Homo sapiens: one gene and its partner. The protein of the gene in region 2 interacts with the protein of the main gene of each other region in a pairwise test. Each region holds a gene or a part of one and is shown on either strand. Other genes may lie near its edges.

Region 1 (15,487 bases), on a different chromosome or scaffold from region 2:
TCAAGATGAGCCTGGCCAACATGGTGAAACCTCATCTCTACTAAAAATACAAAAAAATTAGCCAGGCATTGTGGCGGGCACCTGCAGTCCCAGCTACTCGGGAGACTGAGGCAGGAGAATCACTTGAACCCAGGAGGCGGAGTTTGCAGTGAGCCCAGACTGCATCACTGCAATCTAGTCTGCTCAACAAAGCAAGACTCTGTCTCAAAAAAAATAAAAAGTAGGCCGGACACAGTGGCTCACGCCTGTAATCCCAGCACTTTGGGAGGCCGAGGCAGGCGGATCACCTGAGGTCAGGAGTTCAAGACCAGCCATGACCAACATGGAGAAACCCCGTCTCTACTAAAAATACAAAAATTAGCTGGGCGTGGTGGTGCATGCCTGTAATCCCAGCTACTTGGGAGGCTGAGGCAGGAGAATCTCTTGAACCCGGGAGGTGGAAGTTGCAGTGAGTGGAGATCGAGCCATTGCACTCCAGCCTGGGCAACAAGAGTGAAACTCCATCTCACAAAAAATAAATAAATAAATAAAATAAAATTTAAAAAAAATGAAAAAATATCATAATTAATTCTATTTCCCAGCAGAATTTTCTTTTTTTTTTTTTGCCCCCCACATCTGAGAAGCCAGAGCGAGAATTTTCATTCCTTATATTGACACTTCAATTATCATTAGTTTGATCTTTATTAAAAAGGAATGGTGCCAGGCGGGGTGGCTCACTCTTGTAATTCCAACACTTTGGGAGGCAAAGGCAGCAGGATCACTTAAGGCCAGAAGTTCAAGGCCAGCCTGGGCAACATAGTGAGACCCCATCTCTACAAAAAATTAAAAAATTAGGTAGGCATGGTAGTACACACCTGTAGTCCCAGCTACTTGGGAGGCTGAAGTGAGAGAATCACCTGAGCCCAGAAGGTTGAAGCTGCAGTGAGCTATGATCGCACCACTGCTAGCCTGGGCAACAGAGCAAGACCTAGTCCCTAAAAAAATTTGAAAAATAAAAAGAGAATGGTTTCTACCATATTACAAATTAGTGAGTGAATGATTATTAGTTTATCAATAGCAAATAATTTCCACAGTTGTATCTCTCTCTTTTTTTTTTTTTTTTTTGAGTCTCGCTCTGTTGCCCAGGCTGGAGTGCAGTGGCACAATCTCAGCTCACTGCAACCGCTGCCTCCCGGGTTCAAGTGATTCTCCCGCTTCAGCCTCCTGAGTAGCTGGAATTACAGGCACCCACCATCATGCTCGGTTAATTTTTGTATTTTTAGTAGAGACAGGGTTTCACCATGTTGGCCAGGCTGGCTTGAACTCCTGACCTCAGGTGGTCCGCCCACCTTGGCCTCCCAAAGTACTGGGATTACAGGTGTGAGCCACTGCACCCAGCCCACAGTATTACCTCTTAAATTTACCTTATTATCTGGAGCCCCTAGAGTCTTATTTTCCTTTTGGACATGAATTCAGGAACAGTTCAATATACCTATGATCTGAGGATAATGAGAAAGATTAGTTTTAAAAAGTTGAAAAGGTAGAAAAATATTACAGCCATTTTTCTCACAGTTCAGACAGCAACTCAAACCCTTTGCCCTTTCCTTTCCCTAATTAAAAACAAAATTTAGGCCAGACACGGTGGCTCACGCCTATTGTAATCCCAGTACTTTGGGAAGCCGAAGTGGGAGGATCACCTGAGGTAAGGAGTTCAAGCCAGCCTGGCCAATGTAGCGAAACCCCATCTCTACTAAAAATACAAAAATTAGCCAGTGTGGTGGTGGGTGCCTATAGTCCCAGCTACTCGGGAGGCTGTGGCAGGACAATCACTTGAACCCAGGAGGCGGAGGTTGCAGTGAGCTGAGATCATACCACTGCACTACAGACTGGGCGACAGACAAGACTCCGTCTCAAACAACCACAAACAAACAAAATGTAAAATGGACAAACAGGCTGGATGCGGTGGCTCATGCCTGTAATCCCGGCACTTTGGGAGGTCGAGGCAGGTGGACCATTTGAACCCAGGAGTTCGAGACCAGCCTGGCCAACATGGCGAAACCTGTGTCTACTAAAAATAGAAAAATTAGTCAGGCACGGTGCCAGGCACCTGTAATCCCAGCTACTCAGGTGGCTGAGGCAGGAGAATTGCTTGAACACAGGAGGCTGAGACTGCGGTGAGCCGAGATGGCACCGCTGCACTCCAGCGTGGGTGACAAAAAAAAAAGAAAGAAAGAGATTTGCAGGATAATTAGCAGACAAAATTTTTTAAATTATAATATAGTGTTTTATCTGTTACGTTTAATTTACTAGTACTAAAAGAATACAAATTTCTCAAGGAAAAATTCTACAATCCCAAAACAGAAAAAGATATTTGTAAGCAAAGACAAGCATCAAAAATGACAACAAAAGCCAAAGGCAGGACTTACGAACGTGGGACCGATCCTTGAGCATCGCTGCAACAGCATCCTCATGGGTCTCAAAGTGCACATCAGCTTCTCCAGTGGCCTTCCCACTGGAGCTGTATTCCATGGTGATTCTAACAGGCTTGAGTGGAGCAAAAAACTAAACGACAAACAAAGGCAGTCAAGAGGAACATGATGGATGTAAACCTACCTAGAAGTCTGGTGGCTCTTCATCTTTCTTTCAGACTTTGATTCATACACTTGATACATTTCTTTTTAGGAAATCTTTTTAAGCAGTAATATATTTATATATCTAGTATGTCTTCTGGCTTTTTACTTTTTCTCAGAACTCAAAGTGACATTTCAAATATCTGCTCTCAGCGAGCATGGTGGCTCACACCTGTAATCTCAACACTTTGGGAGGCCGAGGACAGTGGATCGCTTGAGGTCAGGAGATCAAAACCAGCCTGGCCAACATGGTGAAACCCCATCTCTACTGAAAATACTAAAATTAGCCGGGCATGGTGGCGCCTGCCTGTAATCCCAGCTACTCGGTAGACCAAGGCGGAAGAAATGCTTGAACCCGGGAGGCAGAGGTTGCAGTGAGCCAAGTTCACTCCACTGCACTCCAGCCTGGGCGACAGAGCGAGACTCTGTCACAAAAAAAAGTAATACCAAGCCACACTTTTCAGCTACAGAAAAAGAAGCAAGCTTTGCAACCAGGAAGATGCCATCTTACTATCCAACGCAGAAACACTATATTTTCTTCTCTACCTTCCCCAAATTAATACAAGTTCAATTTTAGAACTTTTGTTCAAATCTATTGAGATTGGATATCTTACTGCCACACACGTTTATAATGTCTTGGGCATTGGCTTGGAAAGGTAATCCTCTCATGTGGACAAAATGCAGAGAAGACGTAGTTCCAAAATCAGCAGCCTCTGGAAGCTTTTCTGGCACCTCCTTAGGCAATTCTGAGAGGTGGAACAGAAAGCACTGTTAAAACATAACAGCTTCAAGGGTTATTAACAGATTCTAATTAGGTATGACTTTTATGTCCAAATCCTCAATTCCTCTTAAGAGCATTAAAAGCCAAAATGATCTGAAATTTCTGCCACTCAACAAATATCACCTGAACACCCATAAGCACTGAATGCCTCAGACCATTACCAGTTTAAGAACTTAGCCCTTTTTGTAACATCAGAGAGCAGGTAAAATGATTATGAATTAAACCCTAAAAGAGACTTTCTAGATTATAGGCACTGAAAAAAAAAAAAAAGAACAAAGGCTGGGCGTGGTAGCTCACACTTGTAATCCCAACACTTTGGAAGGCTGAAGCAGGAGAATCACTTGAGCCCAGGAGTTCGAGACCAGCCTGGGCAACACAGCCAGACACTGTCTCTACAAAAAATAAAAATAAAAATAAGTTAGCTGGGCATGGTGATGCATGCCTATAGTTCCAGCTACTCAGGAGGCTGGGGTGGAAGAACTGCCTGAGCCCAGGAGTTCAAGGTTGCAGTGAGCCATGATTGTGCCACTGCACTCCAGAATGGGCCACAGAACAAGACTTTGTCTCAAAAAACAAAAATATATATACACATATATATAGTGACAAGATAATCCCAGGGTACCAGTTTAAAAAGTATTTATGAAACTTAAAAGATTCCAAATGTTGCCCTGGGTTAGGAATCAAAGAAATAATTAAATCCAGAAGCAAACAAAAATCCTTACTTCAGGCGGGCACAGTGGCTCATGCCTGTAATCCCAGCACTTTGGGAAGCAGAGGCCGGCAGATCACCTGAGGTCAGTAGTTCAACGCCAGCCTGGCCAACACGGGGAAACCCCGTCTCTACTAAAAATATAAAAATTAGCCGGGCACGGTGGCAGGCGCCTGTAGTCCCAGCTACTCGGGAGGCTGAGGCAGGATGATGGCGTGAACCTGGGAGGCGGAACCTGCAGTGAGCCGAGAGTGCGCCACTGCACTCCAGCCTGGGCAACAGAGTGAAACTCTGTCTCAAAAAAAAAAAAATCCTTACTTCAGTCAATATTCCTGCTCATTATCCAAATCTTCCCCCATCTTAATTTAAATGTTGACATCTTACTTCCTTTTATCACATTTTTACTACCCAGCTTTTGATATAGTTAATAAAAATGATTAAATTAAAAACCTAGCAAAATAATTAAGCCTTTCTGCATATACTCAAAGTATGTAAAGTCCTATTAAATCTTTAGGCCGGGTGTGTTGGCTCACACCTGTAATCCCAGCACTTTAGGAGGCTGCGGCTCACTTGAGGTCAAGAGTTCCAGACCAGCCTGGCCAACGTGGCGAAACCCTATCTCTACTAAAAATATAAAAATTGGCTGCGCGTGGCGGCATGCGCCTGTAGTCCCAGCTACTCAAAGAGGCTGAGGCAGGAGAATCACTTGAACCCAGGAGGTAGAGGCTGCAGTCAGCCGAGATCGCACCACTGCACTCCAGCCTGGCAACAGAGCGAGACTTCATCTCAAAAAAAAAAAAATCACAAAACCCAAAACATTCAAGATAGACCCAATGAGTCTCAAGAAGAGGCAGGACCTTACCTATTTCCTTCTCACTTTCAAAAGCTGTCATGGGTTGAATATCCTCATTTACTTCATGTTCTTCAAAGACCATTTCTGGCTCAGTTATATACTTAGCAGTAGGAAAAGATGCGATTTTCTTTCCCTTATAAGAACCGACATGTGTTCGAACTTCATTCCTTCTGCTTGGAAATATCTCGATGTATCTATGTCAAAGCAAAAGTAAACAGGCACAAATGGTGCAAAGTAACTTTATACTGAACTCATTTAAAATAAACATGTATACATTATATTTCCAACAGCTTATGAAACACAGGTGTCAAAAGATAACAGGTAGGGAAAACTAATAATGCATACAGATAGTAGCCCATGAAAATATACAACAGAGTAGGTCACTGATTTAAGTTTTTGCATCAAGGTAACACTTTTTCTTCACATACATTTTAATAATATTTTCTACTCTGTTTTGCTTCATGAGAACAACTATGCTTAAGTTAATTGTGTATACAGAAAAAATTAATCTCATAAGGGTTTTTTAAATTGCTGGTTAACAATCTCTTGAAGCTCTGAAATTCAATTCTGTGCAAATTAATCATATCTGTATAAGATATTAAAAGTCACAGTAAAAGAAGAGCTAACTTCCCCAGAACTTCACTAAAAGGCTGAGAATTCAAGAACTAAGTATCAATTATGACTTGCTATCACAGGAGGGGACTATCTATTAAACCCAAGCTTCTGGAACAATTTTTTTTTTTGAAACTTGGGTTTCTTGCTGTCACCCAAGATGGTGTGCAGTGGTGTGAACATGGCTCACTGCAGCCTCAACCTCCTAGGCTCAAGTGATCCTCCTGCCTCAGCCTCCTGAGTAGCTGGGGACTACTGCCACCTGCCACCACACACTGCTAATTTTTTTTTTTTTTTTTTGAAGCAGAGTTTTGCTTTTGTTGCCCAGGCTGGAGTGCAATGGCACGATCTTGGCTCACTGCAACCTCTGCCTCCTGGGTTCAAGCAGTTCTCCTGCCTCAGCCTCCTGAGTAGCTGGAATTACAGGCGCCCGCCACCACGCCCAGCTGATTTTTTGTATTTTTAGTAGAGACAGGGTTTCACTATGTTGGCCAGGCTGGTCTCAAACTCCAGACCTCAGGTGATTCACCTGCCTCAGCCTCCCAAAGTGCTGGGATTATAGGCATGAGCCACCATGCCCAGCCCACACACTGCTAATTTTTTTATTTTTTATTTTTGTAGACATGGGTTCTTGCCATGTTGCCCAAGTTGCTCTTGAACTCCTGGGCTCAAGTGATCCTCCCACTTCGGCCTCCCAAAGTGCTGGGATTATAGGCATGGGCCACCGCGCCCAGCACAGTTTCCTTTTTCTTAACATGGCCTTCTAAACTAAGAGTTATAAAACTAGCTTGTGTTTACAAATCTATAAAGATTAGATGAGCACTACTTCTTTAAAAAAAAAACCTTTGAGCCTGGACAACAAAGTGAGACACCATCTCTACAAAAGTTTTTTTTTGTTTTTTTTTTTAATTAGCCAGGAGACCAGGTACAGTGGCTCACACCTATAATCCCAGTACTTTGGGAGGCTGAGGCAGGTGGATCACTTGAGCTCAGGAGTGTGAGACCAGCTTGGGCAACATGCAAAACCCCGTCTCTACAAAAATACAAAAATTAGCTGGGTGTGGTGGCATGTATCTGTAGTCCCAGCTACTTGGGAGGCTGAAGTGGGAGGATTGCTTGAGCCCAGGAGGCCACAACTGCAGTGAGCTGTATCACACAACTGCACTCCAGCGAGGGTAACAGAATAAGACTCTGTCTAAAATTAGCCAGGCATGGTGATGCATGCCTGTGGTACCAGCTACAAGGAAAGCTGAGATGGCAGGACTGCTTGAGCCCAGAAGGTCAAGGCTGAAATGAGCAGTGTTTGTGGCACTGCACTTCAGCCTGGGTGACAGAGCAAGATCCTGTCTCAAAAAACCAAAAAACCTTTGAACCACTTCTATCAGTAGATCCTGAAACACTGGCTTTGGAATGGCTGTTTTGTTTACTTCAAAGGAGCTGATTTAAAAGGCCAGAAAACAGTAAAAAAAAAAATTAACGAAACAGTGATTTAACATTTGACATTTTAAACTGTACCTCCAAAGTTAAAGTTAAAACACAAATGAACCCACTTATCATCATGTGCATCCTGAGGTGATGTCAACATGAGATACTGTACAAGACAACTGATCTAATTTCTTCAAAAGTCAATTGCTTTTAAAAAGGGGGGAAGAATAAGTAAGGGGGATTTGCTCTAGTTCAAGAGAATCAGTGGTCAGGTGCAGTGGCTCACACCTGTAATCCTAGCGTTTTGGGAAGCCAAAGCGGGCGATCACTTGAGCCCATGAGTTTGAGGCCAGCCAGGGCAACACAGCAAGACCCCACCTACAAACACACACGCACGCACGCACACACACATACACACAGCCAGGTGTGGCGGCACATGCCTATTGTTCTAGCTAGTTGGGAGGATGAGGCGAGACGATTGCTTGAGCCCAGGAATTCAAGGCTGTAGTGAGCTATCATCATGCCACTGCACTCCAGCCTGGGTGACAGAATAAGACCCTGTGTCTTAAAAAAAAAAAAAAAACACACACACACACAGAGAATTATGGACATAACAATCAAATGCAGTGTGTAGACCTTATCTGGATTCTGTATTTTTGTCCGGTGTGCTGGCTCACACCTGTAATCCCAGCACTTTTGGAGGCCGAGGTGGGTGAATGACTTGAGTCCGGGAGTTCTAGACCAGCCTGGCCAACATGGTAAAACCTTGTCTCTACTAAAAATACAAAACTTAGCTGGGCATGGTGGCGCATGCCTCTAGTTCCAGCTACTCAGGAGGCTGAGGCAGGAGGATCACATGAAACTGGGAGGCAGAGAGAGGATGCAGTGAGCCAAGATCACACCACCGCACTCCAGCCTAGGCGGCAGAGTGAAACTCCGTTGCCAAAAAAAAAAAGGCTATTTTTGGTATAATTGGGAAAATGCTATTATGAACTGTTATTAGATAATATACTATTGCTAACAGTGTTAGATATAACATTGAAATTATGTAAAAAAATTTTTTTAAAAGATGCATACTAAAAAAAACCCAGATGAAGCAAATATAACAGATGTTACATTTTATATATAAATGTGTTAATCTAGCTGCTCTAGGTACTCTGTCTATGGGTTAGTCCCTGCCCCACAAGGAGCAGTCAAGCCGGATGCGGTGGCTCACGCCTGTAATCCCAGCACTTTGGGAGGCCGAGGCGGGCGGATCACAAGGTCGAGAGATCGAGACCACCCTGGCCAACATGGTGAAACCCCGTCTCTACTAAAAATACAAAAAAAGCCGGGCATGGTGGCAGGCGCCTGTAATCCCAGCTACTTGGGAGGCTGAGGCAGGAGAATCGCTTAAACCAGGGAGGCAGAGGTTGCAGTGAGCCAAGATCGTGCCATTGCACTCTAGCCTAGGCAAAAAGAGTGAAACTCTGTCTCAAAAAAAAAAAAAAGGAGCAGTCGAAAAAAAATTGTTAATCTAAATTATGGGCATTTGATGGCTCACTACACTACTCTCTCTACTTTTCTATGTTTGGATAACTTTTCAGTCATATTACAGCACATTCATCAAAATGACTTAATGTGTAACACTTCTGCATCATTAGTATCTGCTTTACTCACCGATTACCAATTTCTTCCCTGTGTTTCAACAGGGCTTGGTTGGCCATTTCTGGTTCTTCAAATTGCACATAGGCTTCCCCTGTTTTTCGCCTCCCTCTATAGTCCATCACAAAAGTAATGTCAACTATATTCAGTCCTAGGACACCAAGAGATTTTAATGCTACTAGCAGGCTTTTTTATCCTTAGAATTAACACCATCATTCACATACTAATAAAATTTTTATTCTGTTTTGCCAGTCCCAAAACTGAATACATGCTTGACAGGAAGAAAATTATTATGCAGTCAAAAGTCAGTCAACACCTACATACTTGTATTTCCAGAATAGGTAAGGTCCAAGAAGCCCACCCAAAACATACAATTCTCCCCACCAGTTTTTTTTTTTTTTTTTGCTGTTAATTATATACTAGGAAACAATAGAAATCACAGACTTCACTGCTAATGGTTCTAGGAATTAGAAAATACTTTTAAATTATATAAATTGTTATTGTCTTACACAAATACAGCAACTATTATGAGAAGTTATTTCCTTCAATAGTAAAACCCTCATGAAATTATTCTGAAATCTGACTTCCCTCCTAAAATCTGCCTGATAGAACAAAAACACATATAAAATCTATAAATATTAGAAATTTAAGTGAAGAGCTCTCCCCTAAAGAACCTAATATAACTGCATGCCTTTGCCCAGAAACAGGCTCATCTAAGATATAGAAGGAGATACCAAGGGAAAAAAGATATGAGCTCCCAAGCATAATACAACTGCAAAGTACCTGCAAAGAAGTCTACAATGTCTTTCTCATTGCAACTATAAGGAAGTCCTCTCAAACGAACCACACCATCATTTACCACAGGCGAAGATTTGACCTGCAAGCTCTTCATTAAGGCATCCACATCTTCATTGTTTATCTCATATACTACGAAGAAAAAACCCAACAGGGATGAAAAATTTACATAACAAAGGAACAAACCCATTAAAAAAAATCATTACAACTTGCTGGGTTATCTGAGAATTCAATAACTATTTTAATCTTTATGCGCTTCTCTAGAGAAAATAACAAATGACATTTATTGCATATTTACCATGCGGGCATAACTTCTTTATTTCTCACAGCTTGTAAGATACTTCATTGGCCAGGCACACTGGCTCACGCCTATAATCCCAGAACTTTGGGAGGCCAAGGCGGGTGGATTACCTGAGGTCAGGAGTTTGAGACCAGCCTGACCAATATGGTAAAACCCCATCTCTAATAAAAATACAAAAATTAGCTGGGTATCATGGCATGTGCCTGTAGTCCCAGCTACTTGGGAGGCTGAGACAGGAGAATTGCTTGAACCCAGGAGGCAGAGGTTGCAGTGAGCTGAAATCGCACCACTGCACTCCAGCCTGGGTGACAGAGTGAGATTCCATCCCCCCCACAAAAAAAAGAAACTTTATCTCTTTATGTTTTATTTTCACATCCTATAAAAGAATGCATTCATACAATCTAAATACTTCATTATTAAGGATCAAATAAAAACTACCTTGAAAAGTATAAAACCTAATGCAATGATCCCAAAAAGCCATAATCTGACTTCACATACCTTCCACATACCGCTGGCCCATGTACATGCGGTGCTTCTCTAAGGCTTTCTGCACATCCTGCTCTGACTCCATTTCAATTAAGGCATCACCCCTTCGTTTCCCATCTCTGTTTAGGAGAAAATGTATTCCATTCTCACCGTTGCGGATTCTGCAGTCTAAAAGTGTATGAGCAAAATCAATTGAAAACAGAAATCAAACTTTTAGCTCAATTATGTAAGTCACAAGAATGCAGTTTTCCAACAACAAAGCAGGAAACAAGTGTCATATTCCTTACACAAATCCCCATCACTGAAGTCATCCAAACACCAATAAGGATTTAGTCTCTAAAACCTTCCAAGTAGAAAAGATAAGCAAACCTTAGCACAGAAGCTTATGATCTCCTTCCTGATCATTAAATAGCAAATCAGGATAGGCCCAACACAAAATTCATTATTTCTATTGCAATGTTTCTACAATCACTTAAGGAAATACAATATAGTTAAATTTATACATAAGTGTCTTCCTTTAAAATCATCTCCATAGGTCTCTAAAATATTTCCTGTATGAGTAATTTTATTACCATAGTTTAACTTTTTGTTTTTGTAGAGAGGCGGTCTCATTTTGTTGCACAGGCTGGTCTTGAACTCTTGGGCTTAAGTAATCCTCCCACCTTAGTCTCCCAAAGTGCTGGGATTACAGGCATCAGCCACCACACCCAGCCTTTTTCCCCTTTTCATACTGCATACTTTTTATAATGGGAGTAGTCCAAGATGTAAGTGGCCAAGTGGCTTTAAAAAAAAGTTTGACCAGGCTCACTCTGGGCATACTGCCTAGGATTTACTCCTGCTCCACAAGGAGCAGCTAAAAAAATTAATGAAATAGCCAGGCATGGTGGTTCATGCCTGTAATCCCAGCCCTTTGGGAGGCCAAGGTGGTGGATCACCTGAGGTCAGGAGTTTGAGACCAACCTGGCCAACACGGCAAAACCCTGTCTCTACTAAAAATACAAAAATTAGCCGGGCATGGTGATAGGTGCCTGCTGTCCCACCAACTCAGGAGGCTGAGGCAGGAGAATCCCTTGAACCCGGGAGGTGGAGGTTGCAATGAGCCGAGATTGCGCTACTGCACTCCAGCCTGGGTGACAGAGCAAGACTCCATCTCAAAAAAATTAATAAAAATAAATCATAGTCAGATACAGAAACTAAAAAAAAAAATCCCACAGATATGTAAACCCTCCAAACATGTTATTAAGGGAACTTTATTCCTTGATACTAAGTGACCTTCTATTGTAAATGTCTGTATTACATAAAGAGTCACCCTTAATTCCATATTTCCACTGACAGGCTTGACTTTTTGATATGTATATATTAATACCACAGAGAAAAATAATTTCAAACCATGTAATTTTGTTTTTCAACTTTTATTTAGTACATGTATAGGACTGCTACATAGGTAAACCATGTGTTATGGGAGTTCGGTATACAGATAATTTAGTTACCCAGGTAGCAAGCACAGTACCCAATAGGTTTTATTTTTCTTTTTGAGACAGAGTCTCTCTCTGTCACCACGGCTGGAGTACAGTGGTGTGAACTCAGCTCACTGCAACCTCCGCCTCCCAGATTCAAGCGATTCTCCTGCCTCAGCCTCCCAGGTAGCTGGGACTACGGGAGCGTGCCACCACGCCCGGCTAATTTTTTTTGTATTTTTAGGAGAGATGGGGTTTCAACATGTTAGCCAGGATGGTCTCGATCTCCTGACCTCGTGATCCGCCCGCCTCGGCCTCCCAAAGTGCTGGGATTACAGGCGTGAGCCACCGCACTTGGACCCGATAGGTATTTTTTAATCTTCTCCCCAACCCTCAAGTTGGCCCTGGTGTCTTCTTGTTCCCCTCTTTGTGTCCATGTGTTCTCATTGTTTAGCTCCCACTTGTAAGTGAAAACATACAGTATTAAGTTTAATGTTCCATGTTAGTTTGCTTAGGATAATGGTCTCCAGCACCACCCACATTGCTGCAAAGCACATAATCTCACTCTTTGTTATGGCTACGTAGTATTCCATCATACCAGCCGGGCACGGTGGCTCACGCCTGTAATCCCAGCACTGTGGGAAGCCGAGGCAGGCAGATCACAAGGTCAGGAGATTGAGATCATCCTGGCTAACACGGTGAAACCCCAGCTCTACTAAAAATACAAAAAATTAACTGGGTGTGGTGGCAGTCGCTACTAGGGAGGCTGAGGCAGGAGAATGGTGTGAACCCGGGAGGCGGAGCTTGCAGTGAGCTGAGATCATGCCACTGCACTCCAGCCTGGCGACAGAGCGAGACTCCGTCTCAAAAAAAAAAAAACCTACATAGTATGATGGATTTTTTTTTTTTTTTGAGACAGAGTCTCACTCTGTCGCCCAGGCTGGAATGCAGTGGCACCATCTCGGCTCACTGCAAGCTCCACCTCCCGGATTCACACCATTCTCCTGCCTCAGCCTCCCAAGTAGCTGGGACTACAAGCCTGGGTAATTTTTGTATTTTTAGTAGAGACGGGGTTTCACTATGTTAGCCAGGATGGTCTCGATCTCCTGAGCTTGTGATCCGCCCGCCTCGGCCTCCCAAAGTGCTGGGATTACAGGCGTGAGCCACTGCGCCTGGCCCATACTATGCAGTCTTAACGTTAAAATACTTTTGTTGCATTCAAAGTCTTTATACATATGTAAATTGAGACAGTCTCACAGTGTTGCCCAGTGTGGTATGGAACTACTGGCCTCAAGCCATCCTTCCACCTTGGCCTCCCAAACTGCTGATTACAGGCCTGAGCCACTGCCCCTGGCCCAAAGTCTTTCAATTCGTTACATACCGCAAACAGCACACATGGTATCATTTGGTATATGCAACCAACCAGAATGAGACAGTTCCCAACCATCAAAAAGGAAGGTGACAGCGTAGTCTGACATGGATTTGTAGCACTACCTTTTACTCAGACAAAATTACATACTTAAAACATACATACCTGCTTGTGAGAAACAATATAAGGAAAAAAAATAAATAAATAAAACATACATAAAATATACCTGAAAAAAAGTTAAGCACATCTTCCATAGTGCATGACCAGGGCAGTCCTTGAGCTCGAATGAGAAAGACATCATCCACTTCCTCTTCTAACTTGGACGGGGCCAATTCATACTCAGGGGGTGGTGGAAGGTCTTCCAGGTAAGTAGTTTTGGACTCCTTCCAAAGGAAATGAAGAATTGTAAAAAGAGTTGCATTTACAGGTAAAAAATGTAAAAAAATTCTTAGAAAATGTTTATTCTACAAACTAACATTCTAGATGTTATTTCAGAAGCAAAAAGTAAACTTCACCAATGTAACCCATCCTGTTTTGGCTTAAATTGTACATCCAAAAGCCATAAGCAGGTATATCCTAAAGGTTTGGCAGGACACAAATTTCATTCAGGGTTTGTTTTAAAATTCATCAACCCCAAATTATAGCTAACAATAGTGTAGTTAAGGCAACACAAGAAAGGTCCTGACAATTTGACAAATATTTGATTGCCCCTACACACAGTGTTTGCCGCCCTCATCTGAAATAGCTATCTAGAATACGATAAGCATACAAGATGAGATACTGAGTGCTATAATTAAGATACAAAATACTACAGGAATTCAAATCAGAGCACTAACAGATGAATCAGGATGTGACATGAGATGGGCCTTGAAGGAAGGATAGAATTTTTATGAGGATATAAAAGATAGGGTATTCCAGTTTGAAGGCGAGAGAAAGAAGCAGTACGACCAAATGCCCATTTGAATAACAGCAATTAATTCCAACTGTTTAAATTAGGAGCCAAAGAAGGTGACCTGGCAAAAGAGGTTGGTACCATAGAGCAGAGGGCCTTGAGTGTGGAGCTCAATGTGTGTCCTTCACTTGGTAGGCAAAGATAAGTTAATACAAGACACTGAGGACTGGGTAAATCAACAAGACAGCAGGACGCCTTGGGAATATTCCTCTGTCAGCTGGTATGCCAGACCAAGTGATTAAGGGAAAGATCTTAAAGACAACGGCAGCAGTGTGAGGCTACAGACTTGTAAAGTCTCTTTTATCGGATTAAGTAAAACTGGAATTTAGTAAGAATCCACGAAGCACTACAACCATAACCTAAGAAGACAACTCAGGCTTTAAGACTTGCACTCTACTGGGCCAGGTGCGGTGGCTCACGCCTGTAATCCCAGCACCTTGGGAGGCCGAGGTGGGCGAATCACGAGGTCAGGAGTTCAAGACCAGCCTGGCCAACATGGCAAAACCCCATCTCTACTAAAAATACAAAAAATGAGCCGGGTGTGGTGGCGTGTGCCCGTAATCCCAGCTACTCGGGAGGCTGAGGCAGGATAATCGCCTGAACCCGGGAGGTAGAGGTTTCAGTGAGCTGAGATCTCGGCATTTCACTCCAGCATGGGCAACAGAGCAAGACTCCGTCTCAAAAAAAAAAAAAAAAAAAGACTTGCACTCTACCGGACTAAGGACAGAGATATCTTTCTACTATCTGTCATTTTCTTTTCTTTTCTTTTTTCTTGAGACGGAGTTTCGCTCTTGTCGCCCAGACTAGAGTATAATGGCACAATCTCGGCTCACTGCAACCTCCCCGGGTTCAAAGGATTCTCCTGCCTCAGCCTCCCGGGTAGCTGGGATTACAGGCGCCCGCCACCCCGCCCGGCTAATTTTTTTGCATTTTTTTAGTAGACACGGAGTTTCACCATGTTGGTTAGCCTGCTATCGAACTCCTGACCTCAGGTGATCCACCCGCCGCAGCCTCCCAAAGTGCCGCGCCCAGCCCTATCTATAATTTTCATTAAGGCTTAATGTTAGGCCGGGCGCGGTGGCTCACGCCTGTAATCCCAGCACTTTGGGAGGCAGAGGCGGGCGGATCACGAGGTCAGGAGATCGAGACCACGGTGAAACCCCGTCTCTACTAAAAATACAAAAAATTAGCTGGGCGCAGTGGCGGGCGCCTGTAGTCCCAGCTACTCGGGAGGCTGAAGCAGGAGAATGGCGTGAACCCGGAAGGCGGAGCTTGCAGTGAGCCGAGATCATTCCACTGCACTCCAGCCTGGGCGACAGAGCGAGACTCGGTCTCCAAAAAAAAAAAAAAAAAAAGGCTTAATGTTTAGTTTTAAGGAATAAATGTAAGCAGTGTCTAACACATAGTAGATGCTCTACAGATATCACCGCAGTCAATTTCATAGAAAAAAAAAGAGAGAAGCTAGCTCACAAAGGTTTACTGGAGATGGTTTTG
Region 2 (16,731 bases):
GGGTAGGGAAGGTCAGAGGTACCATCGTCCCTATCTCAGAGCTCTCACAGCAGAGGCTGGCCTCCCCACGCCCCACTGTCATCCTGTGTCCCTCCACTCTGCTCTCCTCCCTGCCTCTGGCTGGACTGGTGTCAGGGACTGGGCTTGGACGTCTTCTCTCATGTACTGGGAGGGTGACTTCACGGCTCCACCCTGTCCACTGTCTCTCTGCCACCCAAGTCTTGTCTCAACTGGACCACAGCATCAGCTTCCCACAGTCTCCTGCTTGTCCTCGTGGCCATGGCAACCAGAGTGGCCTTCGCTCCAAGCAGGTCCCAACTCTCCCCTGCTAAAGCCCCCATCCCACCCAGTCACCCACGGAGCCTCATGGGGTTAAGAACCTGTCTTTACTCAGCCCCCTGACCTAGCTTACTCCCTCCCCGGGGCCTCTGCATGGCCTGTTCCCACTGCCAGGGCGCTCATCCTGCCATGAGTTTAGGTATGGTGACATGCCACAGGCTCAGCACAGGTGTCCGAGGTGGAAGGTGAGGCCAAGGGACTGCCCTGTCTCACTTCAAACGACTGAAGAACAAGGTCACATTTGTGTCTTAAAATAGATCCCCACCCACTGGAGAGGGGGAGACTAGGAAGTTATTCCAGCGGCTCAGACATGAAATGACAGAGGCCTAAACCAGAACCCACGGCACTGACAAGGAGGTGACAGATTCCAGAACTGTCAGAGGCAACGGTGGCTGCATTTGTGCCTGCTTGGCTGTGGGGAATCTAGGCTGGTCCTAGGTGATCAGGGGTCGGGTGCCAGCAGCTGAACAGGAAAGGAGGAAGGGAGCGCTCAGGAGAGGCTGGAGATGGCCTTGGGGCCAACATTGGCCGAGGGCAGGACCTCACGTTCCAATAAGGTGGCCTTCAAGGTGAGGAGGGAGGCAGATGTAGCCAGTTCTGCTCCCACTTTCCATCACATTCCTTCTATTCTGTGTGTGTGGTGCAATAGTGTGCAGTGTATCTACACATATATGGAAACAAAATGAGGATGGGGTTACGGATTATTTTTTTTTGGAGATGGGATCTTGCTTTATTGCCCAGGCTGGAGTGCAATGGTGTGATCATGACTCTGTCCCAGGCTCAAGCCATACTTCTACCTCAGCCTCCCGAGTAGCTAATTTCTGTTTTTTTTTTTTTTTTTTGAGAGGGAGTCTCGCTCTGTCGCCCAGGCTAGAGTGCAGTGGTGTGATCTTGGCTCACTGCAAGCTCCACCTCCTGGGTTCATACCATTCTCCTGCCTCAGCCTCCCAAGTAGCTGGGTCTACAGGTGCCCGCCACCACGCCCGGATAATTTTTTGTATTTTTAGTGGAGATGGGGTTTCACCGTGTTCGCCAGGATGGTCTCGATCTCCTGACCTTGTGATCCGCCTGCCTCAGGCTCCCAAAGTGCTGGTATTACAGGCATGAGCCACTGTGTCTGGCCTTACCTGGATAATTTTTTTTAAGTTTTTATAGAGATGGGGGGGTCTCACTTACTTGCCCAGGCTGGTCTCGAATGCCTGTGCTCAAGTGATCCTCCAGCCTTGGCCTCCCAAAGTACTAGGATTACAGGTGTGAACCATTGCCCTGGCCCAACTTTTATTTTTAAGAGACAGGGTCTCACTCTGTTGCCCAGGCTTGAGTGCAGTGGTGTGATCACAGCTCACTGCAGCCTCAAACTCCTGGGCTCAAGCCATCCTCCTACCTCAGCCTCCAAAGTAGGTAGATTACAGGCGCGCATCACCACGCCCAGCTTTTTGTAGAGACAGGGTTTCGCCCATGTTGCTCAGGCTGGTCTCAAAACTCCTGGCTTCAGGTGATCCCTCCCACCTCAGCCTCCCAAAGTGCTGAGATCACAGGCGTGAGCCACCATGCCTGGCCTGGACTTCTTTTGAGTGTAGAGAGCAACACATACACAGAGATCGCTGGTTTCAGGGGCAGAGAGCCCAAGAGATCAGAAGCAGCCAAAGAGGCGGAGCGAGGGGGTTGGGAAGAAGCCAGCAGAGGTGGGGACCTGGAAGCCAACAGGAAGAACTGCAAGAGGGAGTGGCCAGTGGTGTCAGATACAGCAAAATTCCAGGAGGGTGAAGCGTGGGAGCATCTCAGGATCCAGGACGTGGCCCCGGGAACAGGGAACCTTGCCAGAGCATGTAAATCTCCCCGGGAAGCCTCCTTCAAAGATCTTAGGGTTTGTCACCTCTTTCCTCTAAGCCAGGGTCCCCCAACCTCCACACTATTGGCACCTGGGACAGGCTGCTTGTTGTCATGGGCGGTTCTCCAGGGCATGGCAGGGTGCTAAGCACCATCCTGGCTAGACGCCCACCAGATGCCAGTAGCACCCTCCTCTCCTGAAGTTGTGACAATTAAAAGTGTCTCCGGATACTGCCAAAGGGCAGAACAGCTCCCCTGAGAACCAGTGCCCCAGGTCATAGGTGCGCTCCTGGCTCTGAAAGCCCCATGGGCTCATCACATTGTCCCCACTCTGCCATCCCCTTTTAGGAACATAGGGTGATTTCTTTTCCTGTTTAATACTTTGTTCCTTAGGGAACAAGCACAGTCAAAAACAAACAAAAAAAAGAAGTTGCTCACTGCAAGCTCCGCCTCCCGGGTTCAAGCAATTCTCCTGCCTCAGCCTCCTGAGTAGCTGGGACTACAGGTGCACACCACCATGCCAGGCTAATTTTTTGTATTTTTAGTAGAGACGGGGTTTCACCATGCTGGCCAGGCTGGTCTCGAACTCCTGACCTCATGATCTGCCCGCCTCGGCCTCTCAAAGTGCTGGGATAACAAGCATGAGTGACTGCGCCCGGCAATAGGCCACTTATGAGTTAGAACGGGATTGGATGCTAGAGGCAAGGAGAGGGTGTAACATGTATAAGGAGGGAAAAAACATAATGGTGCTAGTCTCTAACTTGAGCCACTGGGTGGATGATGGAGCCATTCATTAACATGGAGACCATCAGGATTAGGTTGTGGGAGAAGAGGAGAGGACTTACATTGAATATGTTGGATTTGCAATGGCTGGGACACCTCCAAATGGAGTTAGATTGGATATATGGGTCCAAGACTTGGAGATAAAATTTGACTTGGCTGCTCTTAAATTCACAGTCAGGGTGAAAAGGACAACTTCAGTTAGCAAGCGATAAAACAGTAATCAACAGGCCGGGCGCGGTGGCTCACGCCTGTAATCCCAGCACTTTGGGAGGCTGAGGTGGGCAGATCACCTCAGGTTGGGAGTTTGAGACCAGCCTGACCAACATGGTGAAACCCTGTCTCTGCTAAAAATACAAAATTAGCTGGGCATGGTGGCGCATGCCTGTAATCCCAGCTACTTCGGAGGCTGAGGCAGGAGAATTACTCGAACCCAGGAGGCAGAGGTTTCGGTGAGCCGAGATCACGCCATTGTACTCCAGCCTGGGCAACAAGAGCGAAACTCCACCTCAAAAACAAACAAACAAACAAAAAACAGTAATCAATAAACAAGTCCACATTTGGTTAAGAGAGGAAAAACTTCCCCATGGCTATTGGTTGGAGCATGAGGGACAAATAGACTGCTGAGAAAGACTGGATTTTAAGCAAGCATTTCAGAAAGTGACAATTTAGTCTTTGATAATTTTCAGATAAACAATTTATCTGCCGGGTGCAGTGGCTCACGCCTGTAATCCCAGCACTTTGGGAGGCCAAGGCGGGTGGATCACGAGTCAAGAGTTCGAGACCAGCCTGGCCAACATGGTGAAACCCCATCACTACTAAAAATACAAAAATTAGCCAGGCATGGTGGCCGGCGCCTGTACTCCCAGCTACTCAGGAGGTTGAGGCAGGAGAATCGCTTGAACCCAGGAGGCGGAGGTTGCAGTGAGCCGAGATCGCACCACTGCACTCCAGCCTGGGCGACAGAGCGAAACACCATCTCAAAAAAAAAAGATGACGTAATTACAATGGGCCCTAATGCAATATGACCAATGTCCCTATTTTAAAAAAAAGGAAAAATTTTCAAGAATCCACTTTTGGTGAAGAAAAAAAGAAAATTAAAAAATAGGCCAGGCGTGGTGGCTCATGCCTGTAATCTCAGCACTTTGTGAGGCTGAGGCGGGCAGATCACTTGAGGCCAGGAGTTCGAGACCAGCCTCGCCAACATGGAAAAACCCCATCTCTACTAAAAATACAAAAATTAGCTGGGCATGGTGGCCGGTGCCTGTAATCCCAGGTACTTGGGAGGCTGAGTCACAAGAATTGCTTGCACCCAGGAGGTAGAGGTTGCAGTTGAGTCGAGATCACACCACTGCACTCCAGCCTATGTGACTCTGTCTCAATAAATAAACAAATAAACAAAATAATTTTTTTAAAGAGGGATATTTGGACACAGATACAGATACAAATATGCAGAGAGATGATGTACCGAGAGGGAGGACGAAAGCCATCAACCAGCCGATGAGAGGCCCAGAACAGAGCCTTCCAGAGCCCTAAGGAATCCACCCTGCTAACACCTCAGTTTTGGACTTCCGGTCTCCAGAACCGGGAGAAAACACATCGCTGCTGCTTATGCCACTCAGTTCGTGGTGCTTTGTCATACGGTCTTCGCAAACGACCACACCTGTCATCTCAGCCAACGCCCAGCTGCTCCAACTTCAAACCAGGGTGTGGGGCAACCCAGTTCATGGGACTCAGGGCCCACAGGGAGCGGGGAAGGGAGATGGCCACACTTGCCTCTCATCCTGCTGCCTTTGAGAACTTTCTCGGGGGCTCTGCAAAAGCAGGGGCTGCCCCAGTGGACTCCCTATGTCTGAGGGAGAGTAGAGATCTTTAGGACTAGGTCCTGGTGGCCCCAGAGGGAGTCCTTTCCTGAGAGGCAGCTACCCCAGGGAGGAGATGCCTGGGGCCCCACAGGCTCCACTGGGGCACACGAGGAGGCAGCGTAGGACCCCCGGGTCCCCCTGTCCCAGTCACCCTCCTCCCCATGCCAAGCCAGCTGTGTCCCCAACTCACCACCCAGTTCTTATGGACGATCATGGTCATGATGATCTGGTACTGGAAATACATGGGGATGAGCAGCGGCGGCCCAACTGCAGGAGAGAGACAGGCGCTTAGAGGCATCCATTCCACCCTGCCTGTGCCGGAAGGTCAGGGGAACCCAGGCCCAGCACTGAGTGCAGGGGCCAGCCCTGCAGACGTGGGCAGAAGCAGCCAGGGACCCCGGGGCCTGCAGAGAAGGCTGGGAGCCCTTGAGGACGTGTGTCACCCCTGGGACTCTCTGAGCCTCTGTGTCCCCATCAGGCCTGTAACACAGGCTGAGGGGTCTGCACAGCAAGGCTGCTGTGGCCCCCGCTTCTAACAAGTTTAGTGTCACTTTCTGGATCTGAAAAAGATGTCAGGTAGGAGGGAGAGACACGCCACTCTGGGGGGAGGGGAGGGTCCCAGAGTGATTTCGGGGCGCCGAGCACTCACTCAGGAAGAAGTATTCGTGCTGGTGATTGTAGGGCAGGTATTTCAGCTTCTTCTTGCCGTACTGAGGAGAGAGGAGAGATCATGAGCACCCAGTAGCCTCAGCTCCCAGCCTCCCATGTTCCCCAACCCATCCTGCAGCCACCATCCCTTCTATCTGCTCAGGGCACACCACTGTCCCTTTCCTGTCAATCTGCACCCTGGGCCCACCAAGCCTGGGGCCCCTCCAGCCCTCTGGGCTCCCCATGCTACAGCCAGCAGCGGCCAACGCTTCCTCAGCCCTAGCCGAGCACTGGCCCGATGGCATCGATCCTCTACAAGGCCGGCACTTCTGAGGCTGAGGCTCAGCGTTAAGCCATGGCCCAAGGCCACAGGAAGTGGCCCTGACTGGGATCAGAACCCAAAAAGCTGACTCTGAGCCCATGTGACAGGCACTAAACAAATGTTTGTTGAATGAATGTGCAACAGAGCAACTCTCGGCGGAGCATAAGCACCCAGGGGAGTTCCTAGGTCACCATGGAGAGCTCCCGGAGCCCGCAGTGGCAGGGAGAACCTAGGTAAGGGCCCCAGAATTGCTGCCAGTCATCAGGCTGGGAGCATCTGCCTCCCTGGAGCCTCCCTGTAATTTACAAGAGTGAATCACTCCTCCCCAGCTGGAGCCTAACCTTGAGGACAGAGGAGGCCACAGCACAGACTCCTCAGGCCACATCTGGCTACCTGAGGTCCCCATGACGGCACCGGTTTCTTCCCCATCAGAGCCTGCACCTTGGGCAGCCTGATGCCCAGAGGCTCTAATGGAGGAGGGCTGGGCTGGGTCCTGGGCATCGTCATTGTCCAATGCCAGGCATAGGAACCACGGCCCCAGGGGATCCCTGGAGCCCTTAATTCCATGGTCCAGCCCCTAGGGACCAGCCCACCCTGCACTTCCAGGACTGAGACCAAAAGATGCCGCTCACTGAGTGACACCTGCTCCTCTCCCTTGCAGTGTGGGGAGGCTGGGCTTGCAGCCAGCAGATGCGCTTGAGCCGACTCTGCCTCTCACCAGTGCTGAGACTATGTGAGTCGCTTAGCCTTGCTGAGCCTTGTCTGGCATTTGAATCAGTGGTTGGTAAGAGGAGCCAATGAGAACATGGGCATAATGCCAAGTGCTGACCCCAGGACACTGCCCGTCACCCTCCCTATACCCCTGGATCCGAAGGCCAGAGATGCCTCCTCCTATAGTGTCCAGTCATACTTATTGCAGTCAGGAGGTCAAAGTGAGTTACAGAGGGAAGGGACCTTGGATGATGCCTAGGCCAGTGCCCCTCTCATCCAGGTGAGTAAAATGATTGTCCAAATCACAGGGAGAGCATGGATTCCTGAGGGAAGAGGCTGTGGGTGGGAACCAGGTCCACCCTGTCCCCAAGGCTTGCATCTTGGCGCCAATGGCCATGGTCACGGCACAACCAGCTGAAGAACCCCCAGAAACAGTCCCTTTGTTCTGTGTGGCCTCCTGAGCCTTGGCAAGGATCTCACTCATTCCCAGAAAGGACGGCCACTTGCAGGAAGACTATTATTAAGGCCAGGGCTGAGGCCGGCCATGGAGAGGTCCGAGCCAGGGAGGCCTCACAGGAGCCTTTCATGAGTCTCCAGTGGACGGAGTTGCTGGAGGAGCCAGCACTGCAGACGTTGCTCTCGAGGTGGCCAGTCTCGGGGCCTGCAGTGGCCCACAGAACAGGCCCCTGAGTCCTGCTCTAAGCTTCTCCCAGAGGCCAGGGAGCAGGCTCATAGCCCCAGCCTTGGCATGCAGTGTCTCCAGCTCTGCTCAAGAGCTCCTCCCCACCGCATCTCTGTCCCACAGAGCATCCCATCCCTCTCGGGCTGGGCCGGCTGTACTCGGAAGTGAGCACAGAGGGCAACCCAGGCAGGTCAGCAGGGGCCAGGGCATCCTATGGAGGGACTGAGGGCTGGCCACGCTGTTGTGGGGGCCTGGGAGGCACCTGGGGAGTCTGTTTGGAGCTGCATGTGCACAGTAGGCACCCTGTTCTCATGGGTGATGGTGGCCTGTGGGTGGACAACACAGGTTACAGGGGCTGCCTCTGCTGGTAAGCACTGCTGGCTTTAGTGTGCGTCCCTTCAATGCCCCAGAATGACCCTCGGGAGCCAGGGGGTCCTGCTTGCCAGGCAGCAGCAGGCCTCAGAGTGGGCCTCTGTGGGACGGTGAGCAAAATGCTCATCACAGTCACGCACGTGTATGTACATGCGTATGGTGACATACCACTACACATCTGTGCCCATCTCGATGGCCTCAGCTGCAGCGGCTCTGCTGGGGGATGGCCAATACTCCCCTCCCAAACCAGAAAGTACAACTGTGGGTTTGGGATACGAAGCCCTGCCCTGTGGCTAACTCTCTGCTCTCATCTTTCCCACGCTCAGTTCTTTGCCAGAGCTTTGCCGTTTAAGTCATGGGACCAGGGAAGGGAGGGAGAGGTATTTTAGAATGTAGCAAGCTAGGGGGGTGAGTGCCTGGCTGTTTAATTGATCAGAAAGCTGGGGCTACCCAACAAACATATTTCACAAGGGCCCCCAGGACTCCGAAGCTGTGGTTTGCAGCCAGATGGTTTGGGTTCGGACAGTGGTGTTGCCTTTTCCTTGCTGTTACCTTGAACAAGTCACTTCATGTCTCTTGGCCTTAGCTGTTCCATCCATGAAATGGGTCGATGACAGCTCCCGCCTCACGGGTTAAGCAAGGATTAAGTGACGTTGTGCACGCACACTGCCCATCACAGTGCCCGGTCCACAGACTCACTCAACAAGAGTCAGGCTTCTTCCCAACTGGGGGCTCAGAGCCCCAAGTGTGGGGAGTGGAGGACCCCACACATCTCCTCCTCCAGAGGAGTCCCCGTCACACACACAGAGAAAGCCCAAGAGGCAAGGAAGACACATGACTTTCACCTGGCTGGGCTGCGGCCAAGGGTGTGGGTGGCACACATGGACCTCCCCCTGATCAGCAACAGTGCCTTCCCAGGCTGCGGTTGACAGGCAGAGACGCAGGCCAGGGGCAAGGGAGGGAGTGCAGCCAGCCCTGGCGGCGGGGCTGACTCTCCTGTCCTCGGCCTCTCCATGCACCTCAAGGCCAGGCTTGGATGAGGGCCTGGGGGATGCCGGGCCATGTGGAGGGGACCTTTCAGCTTTGGAACAAAATGTCTGAGGAATGACAAGGGCCCTCCTTGTCCATCGAGGGTTGGGGGAGGGGAGCTGTCGCAAAGCCCAGTCTCTGCCTCTGGGAACCTGCAAACTCACACACAGAGAGAAACAGGCGGCACGACCTCCCCAGCAGGAGCAGAATGGCAAGGTCCCAGTCCAAGGTCCCCGAGAGGGCGGCATGTGTGTCCCAAGGCGGGATGGGTGGCTTAAGCCTGTTCATGAAGGTCTGCCTCAAGCAGGAAGCCCAGGAGGTTAGCTTCAGACAGTCAGAGCAGCAGAGGTGGTTTCCCGGATGGGAGGAGGAGGAGGATCTCAGGCACCGCACGGCTTCTGAGGCCCCTTTACACTGCTACCGGGATAATGGTCTCACCAGCCCCCTCAGAAAACGGGGATATGGCAAAAGAAGAACAAAACAAGGCTGCTGCCAATATCACCGCTATTAAACTCAGCTCTGAAATTTCCCGTCAATGCAATAAAACCCAAAGCAGAAAACAGAGTGGAGCTATTAGAAAGAAAGAGACTACTTCAACATCCAGATTAGAAAGAAAGAAGGAAAGGAAGGAAGGAAGGAAGGAAGGAAGGAAGGAAGGAAGGAAGGGAGGGAGGGAGGGAAGGGAGGGAGGGAGAGAAAGAAAGAGAGAGAGAAAGAAAGAAAGAGAAGAAAGAAAGAGTGACTACACTTTTTTTCTGTTTGTTTTGTTTTGTTTTGTTGTTGTTGTTGTTGTTGTTGTTTTGAGACGGAGTCTCACTCTGTCGCCCAGGCTGGAGTGCAGTGGTGCTATCTCAGCTCACTGCAACCTCCGCCTCCCAGGTTCAAGCGATTCTCTTGCCTCAGCCTCCAGAGTAGCCGAGACTACAGGCGTGTGCCACCATGCCCAGCTAATTTTTTGTATTTTTAGTAGAGACGGTGGTTTCATTGTGTTAGCCAAGATGGTCTCGATCTCCTGACCTCGTGATCCGCCAGCCTCGGCCTCCCAAAGTGCTGGGATTACAGATGTGAGCCACCACGCTGGGCCGAGAGACTACGTTTTCATTATTTTCTAGGATATGATCATCTACCCAGGAAACTCAAAAGAATCAACCGAAACACAACTAGAATTACGAAGAGACGTAAGTGGACACTAGCGGGACAAAAGATAACTATCCCATTCATTGGAAGGCCATGCAAACAAAAATTTAGAAAAAAAAGAAAATTAAGATAACTACCCCAATATCCACTGCTTTCCCGAGTACTGGAGAACCTCCAATCATAATGACAAAATATAAAACATATAAGGATTGCGTTTTAAAAGAAACATCCATGAGACATATAAAGAAGTACAGACCTTGGCCGGGCACAGTGGCTCATGCCTGTAATCCCAGCACTTTGGGAAGCTGAGGTAGGCGGATCACTTGAGGTCAGGAGTTCGAGACCAGCCTGGCCAACATGGTGAAACCCCATCTCTACTAAAAATACAAGAATTAGCCGGGCATGGTGGCGGGTGCCTGTAGTCCCAGCTACTCGGGAGGCTGAGGCAGAACGATGGCTTGAGCCCAGGAGGTTGAGGCTGCAGTGAACCGAGATTGCGCCACTACGCTCTAGCCAAGGTGACAGAGCATGACCTTGTCTCAAAAACAAAAACAAAAACAAAAAGAGAGAGAAAGAGAAGGGGAAAGGCACCCCACTACGAGCTTCCAATGAGTTAAGTGCCAAGGATGAATGAGTGTGAGTGTGGCCCCCAAGTCATCCAGACGGTGGCCTGGGAGAGGACAGACAGCCCAGCCCAGGCCAAGCCCGGGCTCAGGAGCACTCACTGCCTCATATGAAGAAGCAATGCCACCTCATGGGGGTGCCGGGAAAACTGGCCGACTCTGGAGAAAAGTGAAGGCCGAACATCATCCTACCCATATCCCATTTGGCAGAAGTTAAAGATTGAAACACAAAACCTTAAAGAACTGAAAATAATATGTATGAAGAACTTTCTAAGCACACAAGAAATGAATCTCTGGGTAAAGTGAATATACTTTGCTACATATGACAAAAAGAATCCTCCTGGACAGCATCAATAAGACCAAAATGCAGAAAACGAGGAAAAGGGCTTTACTGCGGAGCCCGCGCTATTCACAGTTCCACGTGCTGGGAGCCGCTTGGCAGGGCTGCTTTGCTTATCTGTCCCCAGAGATAGAAGCCCTGGCCGGCATCCTTGCTCTGGAGACTGGGATGGTGGCTTGAGGCCCTGGGACCTGGCCGCCCCACCTGGCCCTGCTGTGGTGTGTGGGACTGGCATGTGACAAGTCCCATCAGACCCACTGTCACTTCAGTCAAGAGACCAGGGTTCCTTCCAGGGCGGCCGGGTCCTGCGAGAGCCAGAGCACAGGTCAAAACACCAGGAACCCAGGAAGCACCAATCCTTTCCCCATGAGTGTGAGAGCGGGGATTTCCACAGAACACCGCGGCACTGGCTGGGGACTTCCAAACGCCGCTGGTAACTGAACAACCAGATCCTCACAGCCTCCCACCCCTATCTCCTGCCCCAAAGCCAGCGTTCCAGAAGTGTCGGGGGTGAGAAGATGTCGGGAAAGGAGAGGCTTCTCTGGCCACCACGCACAAGAAAGACGCCTTCTTGCCAGTGCAGCTGGTGGGACTAGACTTTCTTTGTTGGAGACACAGAGAACATCTGTCAGGACAGCCAACGGCTCTACATTACAAAGCCTCGCCGAGAAAATGAAGCCTTTGTCCCCACTTATCAGAGGGCCTCAAGTTCATCAGTTCTGTTTTCTAGACACCTCTAATTAAAGCTGGCAAACTGTTTCCTAGAAGAATAACAATAGCCTGTACTTTGGCAGAAAATGGAATCCCTGGCAGCTTAGAGAGGCTTCCAAAGTACAGAACTGTGGCTGATTTCCTGCGAATTGGCCATGTTACAGAAAAATCCACGTTCCTGCTCAGATAGTCTCACGGGTGGAAATGAAATAAGAAGAGGGTGTACAAACCAGAACTGGGGAGCCAGGCTGTCTCCTCGCCTTGTTCCAAGCCTTAGGCGCCAAGGCTGTCGGGAATACTACTTCACTCACGGTGCCACTCCTTAGTGAGGGAAAATTGGCCTCACTTGGCAGATGCTGATTGAACCCTACTCTATGCATGGCTTTGTGGCTCCTAAGATCTGCATAAAAGCAACAAGGATCTTCTAAACTTTCATTTTAATCATTAATGTATTTCCAAAAAGCAGCGCATATATTTATTTTTTTCTTCTAAATTAGGTCCCGACATAGAGGCTCTACATAAAAAAAAAGAATGTATTAAATAAGAACATTTTTTTGTGGAACGCATTGGTGGGGCTTTTATTCAAAAGAAATTATGGGCCAGGCGCGGTGGCTTACACCCGTAATCCCAGCACTTTGGGAGGGCGAGGTGGGCGGATCACGAAGTCAGGAGTTCAAGACCAGCCTGGCCAACATGGTGAAACCCCGTCTCTACTAAAAATGAGAAAATTAGCCAGGCGTGGTGGTGTGCACCTGTAATCCCATCTACTCGGGAGGCTGAGGCAGGAGAATCACTTGAACCTGGGAGGTGGAGGTTGCAGTGAGCCAAGATCGTGCCACTGCACTCTAGACTGGGCAAGAGAGTAAGACTCTGTCTCAAAAAAAAAAGAAAAGAAAAGAAAAGAAAGAAATTATGAACTACTGACACTCAATTTGTCTACCATATAAAATAATGTAGGTCCTGTTATGGTTCAGAAGTACAACAGAATACCATATGGCTAGAGGGAGACGAGACCTGTCTACATGAACTGGGGGGGAAGGGCATCCACATTCGCAGAGGTGGCAAGTTGCAGGATACAAGGTAGAATTTTTTTGTTTTTTATTTTTTTATTTTTGAGACAGAGTCTCCCTCTTCTGTCCCCGCTGGAGTGCAGTGGTGCAATCATAGCTCATTGCAGCCTTGAGGCTCCCAGGCTCAAGTGATTCCCCCACCTCAGCCTCCCCTGCACCTGGGACCACAGACGCACACCACTACACCTGGCTAATCTTTTGTATTTTTCGCAGAGATGGGGTCTCACTATGTAGCCCAGGCTGGTCTTGAACTCCTGGGCTCAAGCACTTCTCCCACTTCAGCCTCCCAAAGCGCTGGGATTACAGGTGTGAGCCACCACAGCTGGCCTAAAATTTTTGTTTGTAAAGAAACAGATATATGCATGTTTATACACATATAAAAATATCTAGAAGACTGTATAGCATCTTGTTAACAGTGGTTACCCTCAAGGGCATAAAATTTGGGGCAAAGGGGAGGTTTGAGAGACTCACTTTTTTTTTCTTTTTTGAGACATAGCTTTGCTCTGTTACCCAGGCTGGAGTGCAGTGGTGTGATCATAGCTCACTGTAGCCTCAACCTCCTGGGCTCAGCTCAAGGGATCCACCCACCTCAGCCTCCCCAATAACTGAGACTAGGCACGTGCTACCATGCCTGGCTAACTAAAAAAATATGTATTTTTTTAGAGACAGGGTCTTGCTATATTGCCCAGGCTGAGACTCGTGTTTTAATTCTGGATATTTCTGTACTGTTTAGAAGTTTATACCAAGTGTGTTCTATATTTGTAGTAATAAAATGAACTAATATGAAAATAAAATGGTATAGTAAATGGAAGGCAATGGCCTAGCAGTCCAAAGGTCTGGGGCCTCACCCTAGACTGGCCACTAAATTACGTGACTCTCTCGGCTGGGCACGTTGGCTCATGCCTGTAATACCAGCACTTTGGGAAGCCGAGGCAGGCAGATCATGAGGTCAGGAGTTTGAGACCAGCCTGGCCATGGTGAAACCCTGTCTCTACTAAAAATACAAAAATTAGTTGGCATGGTGGCACATGCCTGTAATCCCAGCTACGTGGGAGGCGGAGGCAGGAGAATTGCTTGAACCCAGGAGGCGGAGGTTGCAGTGAGCCAAGATTGTGCCACTGCACTCCAGCTCTGGGCAACAGAGCAAGACTCCGTCTCAGAAAAAAAACTAAATAAATTATGTGACCCTGAACGTGTTCCATCCTCTCGCTGACCTTCAATTTCTTATCCACTGGTGAAGCAGATTGGACCAAGCCACGTTGAGGCTCCTCCCAGTGTACAGGATGATGATTCTCCAAATAAGGTTTTCTCAACATGAGCTAGTCGGTTGGCGACCAAGCTTGAGCCCCTGAAATCTTGCCTTCCTGCTGAACTGGAACAAGATTTCCCTCTACCCTGGGAAAAAACAAGCCAGAAAATGCCCTTCCTGGCCTAAGGGTAGGAGGGAGACATCTACCATTCTAATGAGGAGCTGTGTCTGTATTTACAGGTGAGGCCATTCCACATACATTCCAGCCAGAACAATTCAGGGTACCTAGGAGAGGTATCTGTGTAGCAGGAGATGTGGACCTGCCTGGCTGAATGTCAGCTCTCTAGGCTTCCTTCCCTGCTCCCTGCTCAGGCCAAACACTTCCTAGGTCAACACCAACCCCTTAGTCGTACCTCGATGGCTGCCATTCGCCCAGGCCAAACACTTCCTAGGTCAACACCATCTCCTTAGTTGTACCTCGATGGTCTGCCATTCGCCCAGGACAAACACTTCCTAGGTCAACACCATCCTCTTAGTCGTACCTCGATGGGCTGCCATTCGCCCAGAACAAACACGTGCAGCATGTTCACATCGGGATCCTTGTGGAAGATGTTAGGCTTGGCGTGGTGCTGGAAGTGGCGATGATTCCACCAGTTGGCAGAGGCACCCTGTGGGGAGAGAGGGGTGGGGATGAGCCATGCAAGCCACCAGGGAACCGAGCTCGCTTGTAACAGGCCCTTCTTAGGAGCAGTTCCCGGAACCTTCAACCCTCGGGGATAGCACTTCAGGCCCCCACAAGGCCAGAATCCAGCCCTGCCATGACTGAGCTCAGAGCATGCGCCAGCCCCAGATGGAGTGAAGTCACTTTATCTCTCTAGGCTTCAGTTTCCCTGATCATAAGACGATGGTGGCAGATGAGGCGTGCTGCTGAGGGACCACACGGTGAGCGCTCCAGCAGGTGTGGCAGCCAGTCTCTGCCTCTCCGTCACCAGGTGTGGAACCAGAGCTGTGCAAGGTAAAGCCGAGGTTTCAGGGACAGTGAGAAGTGGTCCCTACTATGTGGCCCAGAAATCTCCCTCCTGAGCGTATATCCAAGAGAAATGAAAACATGTCCACACACCAACTCATAGAGCAGTGTTCACAGCAGCATTCTTCAAAAGAACCAGAAGAGCAAAAGCAACACAAATGTTCATCAACAGATGAGTGGGTGAATGAAATGCAGATTATCCACACAGTGGAATATCATTTGGCTGTGCCGTAAAACAGAACGAATCACTGACCCTTGCTACAACACGGATGAGCCTGGAGAACATGCTAAGGGAAGGAAGGAGCCACAAAAGACCACATATCACATGATTCCACCGACATGAAACGCCCAGAATAGGGAAATCTATAGAGACAGAAAGCTGAGCAGTTGTGTAGGGCTAGGATTGGGGTAGGGGAGGGAGTGAGGGGGTTGGGATGTGATGGCTAAGAAACGTGGGGTTTCTTTTGAGCATCATGAAGATGCTCTAAAATCGACTATGATGATGGTTGCATAAATCTGTGAATATACCAAAAGTCATTGATTTGTCTACTTTAAATGGGAAAACTGGCTGGGCGTGGTGGCTCACACCTGTAATTCCAGCACTTTGGGAGACAGAAGCGGGTGGATCACTTGAGGTCAGGAGTTTGAGACCAGCCTGGGCAACATGGTGAAACCCCGCCTCTACTAAAAATACAAAAATTAGCCGGGCGTGGTTGTGGGCGCCTGTAATCCCAGCTACTCGGGAGGCTGAGGCAGGAAAATCACTTGAACCCGGGAGGCAGAGATCACACCACTGCACTCCAGCCTGGGAGACAGAGCAAGACTCTGTTTAAAAAAAAAAAAAAGTGAGAACTGTATCTCAATAAACGATTTGGAGAGCGCAGTTGTGCTGCTATGCTGAGGGTGGGTCCTGAGATTCGTGTCACACCAGGAAGGCTGGAGGGAGGGCTCAACAAACAACTGCTAACATGAACAAGAAGAACTTTCCTGTTTCTAACACTCAAATAGGATCCCATGAGACAAGACACATAACATGGATATTTCTTTTGAGGCCACAGGTGTCCGTCTCCTCAGCTCAGAGTTATGGCCCTCGACAGTTGCCCAGCGACAGATGAAAGAAAACACACTTTCCTGACCCTTTGGCATCACGACTATCCTGGTGAACTGTTGCCGGATCAATGCTTTGGCTAAGGGTTTGCAAAAAATGCCTATTTGCTAAACAAACATTTTACTTGGGAGATGCTTTTGGCACACACAGTCTATGGACACTAATAGCCATGGGTGGGAACAGCAACGGACAGCTGTGGCCTTTGCAGTAACCTCAGGGCCCTGGAAACTGGCAGGCCTCAAAACCCATGAGAGAGAGAGAGAGAGAGAAAAAAAAAAAAAAAGTCAGAGAGTGAAAGCTCAGAGGCTTCACTTTGGGAGGCTGAAGCGTGTGGATCACTTGAGGTCAGGCGTTCAAGGCCAGCCTGGCCAACACGGAGAAACCCCGTCTCTACTAAAACTACAAAAATTATCTGGGCGTGGTGGCGGGCACCTGTAATCCCAACTACTCAGGAGTCTGAGGCAGGAGAATCCTGTGAACCCAGGAGGCCAAGATCATACCAACTTCACTTTAGCCTGAGCAACAGAGCAAGAGTCTGTCTCAAAAAAAAAAAAAAAAAAGAAAAGAAAGAAAGAAAGCTTAGAGGCTCGAGGAATCAAATGACACATTTGCGTTTGTTGTCAAAAGGAACAAAATTCCTGGGAAGAATCAAATGGAAAAATCTCTGGCACAAAGAAACTGAGGAGCAAGGCATGAAACAAGTAAGCGTGATGTTTGGAGGATACCAACCCAGAGATGTTTATTGAACAAACAGATGGAGGAAAGCAAGACGGGCTGACAACAAGGAGGCAGTGAGGTGGGCAGTCCCGGTTCTCCCTGGACTCGGGATGAGATGTAATGAAAGCATTTTTTGTTCATGCTACTTCCTCTGCTGTGATTCTCTTCCAT

The links.
Region 1: the proteins of FADS2 (region 2) and GRSF1 interact in a two-hybrid assay, tested with the Homo sapiens proteins (one study listed by BioGRID).

What each region holds. Positions count from the first base shown.
Region 1 is NC_000004.12:70,822,891-70,838,377, forward strand, and holds part of GRSF1 (G-rich sequence factor 1), read right to left. Parts: intron 13,425-15,487; coding exon 13,268-13,424; intron 10,384-13,267; coding exon 10,228-10,383; intron 9,561-10,227; coding exon 9,417-9,560; intron 8,785-9,416; coding exon 8,649-8,784; intron 5,147-8,648; coding exon 4,962-5,146; intron 3,356-4,961; coding exon 3,234-3,355; intron 2,542-3,233; coding exon 2,406-2,541; intron 1,479-2,405; coding exon 1,429-1,478; 3' UTR 1,404-1,428; intron 1-1,403. UniProt on the Homo sapiens protein: Regulator of post-transcriptional mitochondrial gene expression, required for assembly of the mitochondrial ribosome and for recruitment of mRNA and lncRNA. Binds RNAs containing the 14 base G-rich element.
Region 2 is NC_000011.10:61,845,804-61,862,534, reverse strand, and holds part of FADS2 (acyl-CoA 6-desaturase), read right to left. Parts: intron 14,377-16,731; coding exon 14,251-14,376; intron 14,245-14,250; exon of another isoform or gene 13,674-14,244; intron 12,787-13,673; exon of another isoform or gene 12,476-12,786; intron 5,525-12,475; coding exon 5,464-5,524; intron 5,082-5,463; coding exon 5,005-5,081; intron 1-5,004. UniProt on the Homo sapiens protein: Involved in the biosynthesis of highly unsaturated fatty acids (HUFA) from the essential polyunsaturated fatty acids (PUFA) linoleic acid (LA) (18:2n-6) and alpha-linolenic acid (ALA) (18:3n-3) precursors, acting as a fatty acyl-coenzyme A (CoA) desaturase that introduces a cis double bond at carbon 6 of the fatty acyl chain.